2 separate regions of the Homo sapiens genome follow, and region 2 is linked to region 1. The links come from fine-mapping of genetic effects on gene expression. Tissue or cell type: whole blood. Region 1 holds a variant in brackets; the other region holds the start of a gene. All regions are shown on one strand. Distances are from middle to middle.

Region 1 (6,056 bases):
CAGGAGCCTCATTATGGTCATTCTGAAAGCAGTAGATGCAGAAAGAACCCCTAAGACCTTCAGACAAATATCTTGTATTATTCTGGGATTTCTAGGCAGTGTATAAGAGTGGTTAATAAGCTAGCATCTAAAGGGGAAGCGAAGTTCAGAACTCATAGAAAGAAGTCAGAAAGATTGAAGGAGGAGAGCGGCCTTTTGGCAGGCTGGGGAACAAACACTGAAGAGAATAAATTCAGGATAGTATGCCCAGTAAATAGACCAAAATCATATCAGGTAGAACTGGAAGAGGCTTTGAATTCACTAGCGATTTCATTCTAATATTATTGGTGAGAAAGTTGAGTGCTGCCATGGAGAAATTATATGTACAGCCATCCCATACCTGAGTTAGATTCTAATTCTCTAACACCTGACCCAGTGCTCTTTCTCCCATACTTCGTTGTTCTTTGCCCGCTCACTGCTACTCTTTCTCCTGATGGTTTCCCCCAGCCTCCAAGCCTCATTAGATTACAGTCAGTGGACCCATTTTTAGTTCTACAGAATCTGCACAGGAATTAGACATCCAACAAGGCTCCTAAAGACTTTAATCCTTAGAATCAATGGGTATAAAAATCTAGGATCTGGGAAGGAGAATTCAGATAGCCTAGTACAAATCTTTAGTTACAGAAGGGAGAAAAGGAGATGAAAAGAAAGCCCTGAATTTACTTTCCACAGGTTACACAAATTGTTACTGACATAATGATATCTGATTTTACTGAATGGTTATTATGTACCAGATGTAGTGTGCTGTGATTTTTATAATCATTTTCTTATTTATCACTCTCAAAACTCAATGAGATATGTACAATGTTGCCTGCATTTTTCAAGAAGGAAACAAAGGCATGGAGCACTGACTTATCTTACAAGAGGTTGTACAGTGAATCAACGGGTGGCAGAGCTAAGATTTAAACCCACTTGTGTTTTAACCATTACCCCAAACTATTCAGTATTTTTGCTACTCAAGCTCCCTCCAAAACAGTAGAGCACTTTCCTGTCAATACCTAAGACATAACCATCCTTTTTATTTTAAAGTCACCGAGAGAATAAAAGAACTTTACAAAGTCACACATTTGAAAGAAAATGTCCAACGTTTCACACCATTAGAGGAATATCAAGGAATTACAACCTTGGACTAGAGATGCTAAATTTGAAAAGAGCATTTTTGACTCATTTCTAAAGAATTTGAATTTACCTGGGAGCCAAATGATTAAGCCTTAAGCAAAATAAGCCAGGATCCAAGCCTGCTCTTATCTCCTAATTGGAAGTGAGGGATTTCGATTTTGTTCAACTCTGCTATGCTAATGTATCCATAGTCAAGCAGGTGCTGTTGGAGGAAAGTTGGTTTAATTGGTTTAGTGCAGGAAGTACAGGCTTTATTGTCATCCATTTATTCAACAAACTCTATTTACTGAGCATCTACTACATGTTAATATGTGATTTGCAGTCCCTGCCCCCTTACAGTGAATCACAGTATGATATAGTAAATACTACATACAGGAGTTTTGTCATTTGGCATACACTGATCACCACTGGTATAAAAGGCACTGAGGTAGGTGGCAGGAATACAGAGATAAATAAGTAAAAACTGGCCTTGTATCAAATTTGCTCACAGTAGTGGGGCAGGTGAAAATGTAAAATTCAATATGATATTATCAATGCTTTTACAGAGGTCAGTACCTAATGTTGACAGCAGCAAAAAAATAGTACCTAATTCTCCCTGGGTAAGAGGTCAGGCTGGAGTGAGAAAAAAAAAAAAAAAAAAAAAAAAACAGGAGGGAAACACTTCTAGTTTCCATGTACTTACATGAGAGTCTTTGTTCAAAAATCTCTCTAGTTATTTTTTTATTCCTGTGGTAAAATTAAAACATACTCTTTATATAGAAATAGTAGAATAGAAAATGCAGAGAAATTGAACTTAAAAATACCATTGTTAACATTTGGCTGCATTTGTCTGATCTTTTATATAGTTAGGCTTCTTGCAGTTATTTTTTTATTCTCGTACATAAATAAACAAACTCAACTAACATTTGTTGATTACCTTCCACGTGCAAGACATTGAAGATACAGAGATAATTATGACCTACCATCATTCACATGATCTGGTCATAAAGACACACACTTAAACAATTGAGTCTTAGACACTGATGAGTGCAACAGGAAATACTGATAGAGACAGCTCAGGAAACACAGTAACAAATTCCTCTCTGGTCTACTGTACATACTAATTTAAATAATATTATCCTTTTAAAAATATCATAACAAAGTCATTTTCCATTTAATGAAAACTGTTTTGTAAGATCCTCATACTGTTCTGTCAAACTATTCTTTATTTAAACAAAACTTTCAGCTGTTTTGTGATATTCGCTCTTATAAATAACTCAAATGAACATCTGTGAATATTACACATTATTTTCCTCTTTCCTTTGGCCTTAAAATACAATTGGTGGCTCAATTTTCTTTCCCAACAGCCATTTCCTGCATTTTATATATAAGCAAGCTGGTGTTCAAAGGCATTAAGTTGTTTGACCATGTTAAAATAATCAGTTAGGAGTTGATCCAAGCCTGGAATGCAGAGCATTCAGTTTTCAGGGTGATGTCTAAAGACTACCCTCTAGGTCAGGGTTTTTCAATCTTAGTACTGTTGATATTTGGGCTAGATAATTCTTTCTTGTGGGAGAGTGCCTTGGGTTTGTAAGATGTTTAGCAGCATCCTTTGCCAATAGCATCCCACATACACACCAGTTATGACAACAAAAACTATTCCCAGATATTGCCAAACACCCCCTGGGGGATAGACAATTTTCTCCCCATTGAGAGCCACTGCTCTAGGGGATCCCTGCTGCATAGATTTTGAAAGCTGTGACGATGACCCTCATTGACAGCAATGCCATTAAGAAGTCA[T/C]CCTTTTCTCTATTTAATAGATTTTCATTCACAACCATATGTAGATAAGTGAAGAAAGTGTAACCCATGAAACCTCAGCAAATTCAGGATGAAATAACCATAAAAGCCTTGAAGCTAAGCTTCCCTAAAGAACAAGAGCAAATACATTATTCTGGAAGGCTTTTAGGATTCAAGCTGGTGTCCAAGAGAATATATGATCCACGCAGACAATAAAAGGAAGGAAAAGAACATGGAAACAGACGTCAAATCCATGGCTGTTATGGTCTTCCAAGCTGCTGATCTCCTAGGATTTCTCTCAAACGACAAACCATATGGAGAGCTCATCTACCTTGCAAGAGTGTTTATGAGCCCTTGGGTAGTGATGTGAGGACTTGGGAAGACTCTGGCAGTCAGTAGGGAAGACTGTAAAGCTGGAGGAATTGCCTTCAGCTCATGCACAGGTGTCTGGCTTCTTAGAACACAGAATCAAGAGAATCAAAATCTTATAATGGGTCCTCATATGTGGCTACTGAGTGCATCTCTTGCCCTTCTGATTTCAAGGGATCATGAAAGAAGGATGCTAGTGAGTCTCCCTAAACCCATTCAACATAAAGTAAGCAGGATTTGGCACAAGTAAGCTTTGTGTGAACTGCTGTCATGTGGATACAAAAAATAGAACTGGGCAGAAATTGGCCTGGAGGCTTACCTTGAGATAAACTGCCATTCCACATAAGGGATAAAATGTTTTGTCAAAAGAAGACTCATTCATCTCCACCTCATGTGTCTTCAATCTGATGACCAAATTCTTGACCAATAGTAAATAGACTCCTAACTGTGGCAGAGGAGAAAGAGGTTCTAGAAATTACCAGCTGAGTGTTCTTGGGTAGGTTTCATCACTTCTCTGAACTGTAGCCTATTAAATTAAACAACTATTTCCTCAGGTTGTTTCAAGATTCAATGAGATGACAGATAACTTATCTAGCACAGTATCTGTTATATGCTAAGCACTCAATAAATGTTAGATGTATTTCCCTTTATCACTCTTCAATAGTCAGACTGTGCACTACTGAGCATTCTTCTTATTTTGAAGGCCTTTTGGCATTTTGCTAAATAAATTGTTTAATTAAAATCTAGCACAGAGCAGGATAATAGCCTCCGTGAGTGAAGGGATCATGTCTTGTCTTTTTCTCTAATATATTACCTTGGTGCTTGCTGTGTATTAGATGCTTGAGAAATATTTGCAGAAATAATCGAATATATGAGTATATGAATGAATAATTTGATCATACAATAAAGTCCTGGTATTGGGAAAGGGAAAGATAACATTTATTCAGTGCTTATCCTGTGCTTATCATCTTGATATACACTCTCCAGTCACTGATCCATTCAATTTTCTCAATTTTTATTCCATTTTCAGAAGATGAAACTACAGCTTAATTAACTTGACTAAGGTCATTTGGCCACTAGGAGGTTTAGCTGGGCTAGAAAACCAAGTCTGTCTACTTTCTACGCCTGCTATGGGAAGTCATGGAACTAGGAACTACCCAAAGCAGAGACCAATTCTTAACCATCTTTAATTCCTGTTATCAGTTAAATTACATACCCCCAAAATATATGATGAAGTCCTAACCCCTAGTACCTCAGAATGGGGCCTTATTTGTAAATAGGATCATTGCAGATCTAATAGTTAAGATGAGATAATCCACTATGACTGGTGTTCTTAAGAGAAAAAGAGAGACACGCAGGAAGATGACCATGTGATGAAGGAGGCAGAGATTGGAATAATGTATCTACAAGCCAAGGAATGCCAAGGGTGGTCAGCAAACAACACAAGCTGGAAGATGTAAGGCAGGGTTCTCCCCTATAGATTTCAGAGGGATCATAGCCCTACAGACACCATTATTTCAAACTTCTAGCCTCTAGAACAGTGAGACAATAAATTTCTGTTGTTTTAAGCCACCTGGTTTGTGGTACTCTGTTATGGCAGCCACAGGAAGCTAATACATACCTCTGTACAAACAATTGACTATCATATTAGAGGAGCTCGATGCATATGTATTGACTTAATTTCAACTCAACTGCCCTGGGAAGAATGCTCTTCTCTATTGCTGGAGATGTGCAAACACAAGTGGAAAAACTATTATATGGTTATGTTATTAGGGGATTTAAATCATTTCTAAGGACCCACCTAAACCAGATCCTATGAACTTGAGATCTGAAAACTTGAAGGAGAATTATTCTGGGGCTGTATTACTACATTTGGAGAGGTAACTCTGCCTAGTGTTTCTAGCACAGTTAGATTTCTATAAAGGTATCCAATCTTGTGATCTACAGCCATCAATAAGAAAAAGTATTTTTTAAATGCTGTTCAGGTATTTCTGAATGATTTACTCATCTTCAAACAGTGTTTGTACTCCATGTGCATTATGGCTTTAACTGCTTTCTTTATATCTTGCAATTTTTTAGACCTGGAAAGGAAAATGTATGTTTCAGGTATAAAATACCCTCTTGAACTAAGAAAGGAATGACTGAGACTCGCCAAGCCTTCAACAGATCCCCAAGTTCCTCACTTCCTCTTGGAACGTAAGGAGTATTAAATGACTATGAATGTGGAAACCACCAAAGCTGCAAATGAAGCAAACTGTATAAATTTAAAATTCCTGCTCTTGTGTATGTTCCTTGCTGGAAATAGAGAGCTCCTCCTTTTTATTGTTAAGGGAGTATCAGTTTATTTTTTCAGATTATTCCCACTATTGAATATTGACTTATCATTTATACAAAACTGTAAACAGGAGCCTAATACCTGAGACCAATTGTAGATTATGGAAATGTGCTCATCTTCTCTGTAGGGATTCATCTTCTTATGGGGAGAATTTCACAGAGATAAATATAATTGCTTTGCATAGGTTTGCAAGAAAGTTTAGTGTTCCTAGCTATCAGATGAGGAAAGGAGAGTAGAAAAGGACTAACATTCACTAAGAACCTACTAGGGACCAAGTTCTATGCATGGTACTAAATTTAATGATACTAACACACTGAAGCATAATTACCCTCTGTTTTGATAGAAGACAAAATAGAGGCCCAGAGTGGTGCCCAGACTTTCCCAGGGCTAGTGAAGGAGCAGAGCCAGGGTTCAAACC
Region 2 (4,952 bases), 71 kb after region 1:
GTTCAAGGGTCAGGTGCATTGGTCATTGATAAGAACTCTGGCCTTCTTAAGACATAGAGTATAATCAAGCAGCACTTTGATTGAAAATGCCCACAAGGACTCCTTGAAATAGGAAAAGAGATTCCCAAAGAAAGCATTCATTTCACAGAAAGAAAGAATAGGCAAGCGTTTTAGGTAGACAAAACTCCCACCTGTACCATTTTCATTATAGTATTTTTTAGAGAGAAATTTTAATACTTAATTTTGGTTCTATTCTCCTTCATTCATTTGGTCAAAAAATTTTGTAGAGCACACTATAATCTAGACACTGTTCTGGATATTTAACAAACACAGAGAAGAAAAAGAAAAGAAGAGTCCTTCAATAGCATGACGTTAAATTTTCCCATGGATAATATAATAAATTACCACACACAAATGTATTGTCTTACATTTTTGAAGGTTAGAAATCCAAAATCAGTCTCACTGGGCTAAAGCCAAGGGGTCAGCAGAATAGATTCCTTCTGGGGGTCTTGAGTAGAATCAGTTTCCTTGCCTTTTCTAGCTTCCAGAGGCCGTCTGCATTCATTGGCTCATGATCCCTTCCCCAAATCCCTGTACCCTCTTGCCTCCATTGTCACATTTACTTCCTCTTCTGTCATCAAATCTCTCTCACCTCCCTCCTATAAAGACACTCGTGATTACATTTAGGGCTCATCTGAAAAATTTAGATAATCTTCTCCTCTCAAGTTCCTTCACCTAATCACATCCGTAAAGTTCTTTTTGCCATGGAAGGTAATATTCACAAGTTCTGGGGATTAAAAGGTGGACATCTTGAGGGAGGGGCATTATTCAGCCCTCTACAGCATAGCACGAGAAGCCCGGACAAACAAAGCAAATAAATACCACACTCTCAGACAAAGACACACATATTTCCTAAGAGAGAAACCACAAGTTATAGATAAGATGAAGAAGCCACTTTCAGCTCTGGAATCCAGTTTGGCTTCTTCCAAAATAAGAGCAAACATTTATATTGTTCGTTATGTGTCAGGCATTCTTCTAAGTTCCTTTCTTATATAACTCGCTTAAACTTCACAAAAAGTCATCCTCATTGTATAGAAGAGGAAACTAAAGCACAAAGATGTTAAGTGATTTGCCCAAGATTACACTGAACTAGCAGGGCAAGGATTTGAACTCAAAGTGTCTGATTCCCAAGTTCACATATCATTTGAGATCCAACTTAAAGAATGGATAGGCAGGCTGACACAGTGAGAAATGGAAGGGCATTATAGGCAGAGGAAACAAAGTGAACAAAGGCACTGAGGCAGAGATATGAAAGGGAGATTCAAGCCAGTGAGTAGACTGGGTTGGATGCAGCATAACAAGCCTAGGAGAAGTAGTGGGAGATCAAGCTAGAGATCTAGCTTGAAGTCAGATAGTGGAAGGTCTTGAAACCACAGACACCTGCTGTGGCTGATGAGATCTTTCAGACATTTGAGTAGAGGAGGGGGCTTGTCAGAGTTGGGCCTTGGGAAGACTGATCTGGAAGCAACGTGAAGGCTAGGAGGGAGGAGTGAGAAGGGAGCTGTCCCCGCTTCTCTGCTCCCTTAACACTTTCTATATCATAGAATGTGGCTGTGTGTCTCACCCTCTAGAGAGTGAGCCCCTGGAGGGGAGCTGAGTGTGCTGTCCACCTCTGGCTGCATGTGCCAGTGGGTGATATATTCACCTGTAAAGCACAGTACAGCTAGAGGTTAGGAGACAGGGGAACAGATGCTGGAGCTGCTGCTGCCTATGTTGATGCAAATAACAATACCGTTTGGGAATCAATCTAAAGTGTCTTTGCCTGCATCAGCTGAAGTTTCTTTTAGCATAATAACAACTGTCTGGAAATGTAGGATATGCAGATCTATATTCTAATCTTAGCTCTGTACTTGCTTTTGCAGGATTTGGAGTAGTTTATCAATACCCCAACTTGTTTCTTTTCTCTTTAAAATAAAGTAAAACTATTTTGTTTATAACTATTAACTTGTGAGGTGAGAGTTATCCAGCTTGTCATAGGGATCTGGCATAGAGACAGTACTCAACGTTATTATTATCAATCTATAATATTCTGGTTTTTTTGTTTCTTTGTTTGTTTGATATGGAGTCTCGCTCTGTTGCCCAGGCTGGAGTGCAGTAGTACCATCCTGGCTCACTGCAAGGTCCACCTCCCAAGTTCAAGCAATTCTCCTGCCTCAGCCTCCTGAGTAGCTGGGATTACAGGCGCGCACCACCACGACCGGCTAATTTTTTGTATTTTTAGTAGAGACGGGGTTTCACCATGTTAGCCAGGATGGTCTCAATCTCCTGACCTCGTGATCTGCCCACCTCGGCCTAACAAAGTGCTGGGATTACAGGGGTGAACCACTGAGCCCGGCCGATATTCTTATTTAATTTAGTCACCAAATCGCAGTTAGGACAGTGTTATTATTTTGCCCCGTTTCACAGATGAGGAAACAATCTCAGGGAAAAGAAGGGATTTACTCAAGCCATACAGTGGAGACGTCTGGATTTGAACCTACTGTGTTGGAATCTCAACTATGTGCAAACTCACAAAGGGAAATGAAGCCTTCGGAGGAAGGGCGGGACAAGGGTGACCACACAGGTGAGCGAGATGGGCTTCTAGAAGGACGCCCGCATATCTCTGAGGAACAGAGAAGGCACAGATCAAAAACACCTAGGCTCTTCACCCGTTGGCAGCCAGAGCCTGGGTCCATTGCCTAGGCAGTGGAGAAAAACCTGGTCCCCGCCCAGAAACAGCCTTCAGCGTCCTTAGCGACCAGGGCGGAACAGGCGCCGCCCGCGATGCGGGCCCTGTGATTGGCCGGATTCCTGGGCTCGGTCCCCACGCCCCGTCCCGTCCCCGGGTCTGAGAGTGTCAGCTTCCTGGGGAGAAGCACGGACCGCGCACCTCTGAGCTGCCAGGGTGGGGACGCTGCCCTAGCGGTAAGCCCCCCGACTCTGTTCTCTCCGGGCAATCAGGGCCGACACGCAGCTGCTGGGCAGGGAGGGGATTTGAGGATCACGAGTTCCGGGTCTGGAAGATTCCAGACAGGTGCAAAGAGGCTGCAGGTCCCCGGGATGAGGGGCTGCCCTAGCACAGGTCTTTAGTATTGGACTTTTGGGAAGAACCCTGGCCTAGACATCAGACCCAAGTACTGGAAACAGTCCCGTCCTTCATTCCTCTGTGACCCTTGTCAAATAACACACCCTCTCTGGGCCTTAGTTTTCCAATCTGTGAAGGAGCCTTTGGAGTAGAATGATTTCTAAAGGCCTTTCAGCCTCTGGGTGGTTCTAAAAGGGAGTGTTCAGCTGTGGCCAGATTTACTGAACTTCTGATTTTCCCTTGGCATCACTCTGTTTAAACACCTTGTGCAGGAGTTCAATTTCAGATTCATTGTATTGTTGTAGAAAGAGATCAGTGATAACAACAAAAGTCTGTCTGTCTTGTGTACAGTCTCCCTTCAGATGCATTATCTCCTTGGATTCACCCTCAAGTCCCTGAGAACAGACCTAGAATTACCCTGATCTCATAAATGGGGAAACTAAACATCAGAACTGAATATGGATTCTTCATATGTCCCACTAATGCCCTTGTTTCTGCTCTGACCTCACTGGAATTCCATCCTATGTCTTGTAGTACAGGAAGGTAGAGTCACCTAATGATTCAGTAGATCTGCTGTACAGACCTCTTAGGTGAGATTCCCAAGTCGGCTAATTACTGGTGATGTGATGTGATGTGAGTAAGTCATATAGCTACATTTTGCTTGTTTCCTCAACAGTAAAACAAAAATGATAATAGTAGTTAAAAATATCTTTCTCATGCCTTTGTTAGGAGTGTTAAGTGAGGTAATATAGGTGAAACACTTTGTCCTGCTATTATTATTGCTTGTTGTTATTGGCAAGGATGATGCAGTTCCCTAATGGAAAATCAAGAGGAACAATTTACTTATTTTCACCCCTAGGGATCTGAAGGGATTTTGAAAGGAATCATGTCTTCAGCCTGGAAGACTCCCCGTGGATCAGATGCAATGCCTGAGATCATGGTGAAAATCATTGGAAGTAAACACTTTCAATACCTCGTGGAGAAGCCAAAGATGTAAGTCCATATTTGAAAAATATCTATGTTGCTTGGATGATAATGAAGTTTTATTGTTTTGTTTTCACCCAGAAATTTAAACTTAAAAAATGCCATCCATGGAAAACGAAGTCATTAAGATGCAACAGTAGAGGTAAAATCGTGTTGATAACTTCCATGTGCACTGTTTTCCTGATATTTTTCATCTTTATAATTCCCCATACTCCTTAATTACTTGGGCTGATTTTCCAAATAGATGGGAAATATGAGCATTGCGACATTTATAAATATTAATGGAGCACTGCTGCCTTTTCTCATCGGGCTTGTAATCTACCACATGTACTAATTTTGGGGAGAGTGGGGGAGGTTTAATAGTCAATTTGTTGTGAATTACAGGAGTAGGATTAATACAGAATCATAAATTGTAAGGTTTTCACTTACTCCTGTTTGTATTTGATACTCCTCTAAGCTTGGGCTTCTCAGATCATGGCTAAGATCTCTTTCTTCTATTCCAAACCCATCAGAGTCACATTTAAGAGATGACACTCCTGTATTTCTAATATTCACCAGATGTTTCAGCACAGAACAGTATGACTAGCTCTTTCTTACAGAGTTTCAGTGGCTCAAAAAAGGAGGGAAGGTACTAGATCTGTCTTTCATATAGTAGGCGTTCCATAAGTAATAGCTAGTCAAAAATTACTTTTCCTTCCTAAGATTATTTCCTTAGCTCTATCTTCTATTTCAGAAACTCATAGACTGAACAAATATACAAAGATATGGTATTGTTGAACATAGGTGCAAGAAGAAATTTTTGCTAAACCTAGCTGTCATCAGAATCACTGGGAGAGACCTCAAA

Evidence for each region. PIP is the estimated chance that this variant, and not a neighbour inherited with it, causes the effect. A credible set is the group of variants that fine-mapping cannot tell apart.
Region 2: C1orf87 starts here. The variant in region 1 is the best candidate, but not a certain one, in a credible set for the expression of C1orf87 in whole blood (INTERVAL, PIP 0.78).

The regions. Positions count from the first base shown.
Region 1 is chr1:60,142,479-60,148,534 of GRCh38, reverse strand. The region is part of intron 1 of LINC02778 (long intergenic non-protein coding RNA 2778); the gene reads right to left. It overlaps LOC107984963 (a long non-coding RNA gene), which reads right to left and starts at 11. Exons shown (of 3, transcript XR_001738092.1): 1 at 1-11. The variant T/C (reference allele first, on the strand shown) is at 2,938.
Region 2 is chr1:60,071,702-60,076,653 of GRCh38, reverse strand. It overlaps C1orf87 (chromosome 1 open reading frame 87), which reads left to right and starts at 2,884. Exons shown (of 12, transcript NM_152377.3): 1 at 2,884-2,964; 2 at 3,984-4,117. The coding sequence starts at 4,011.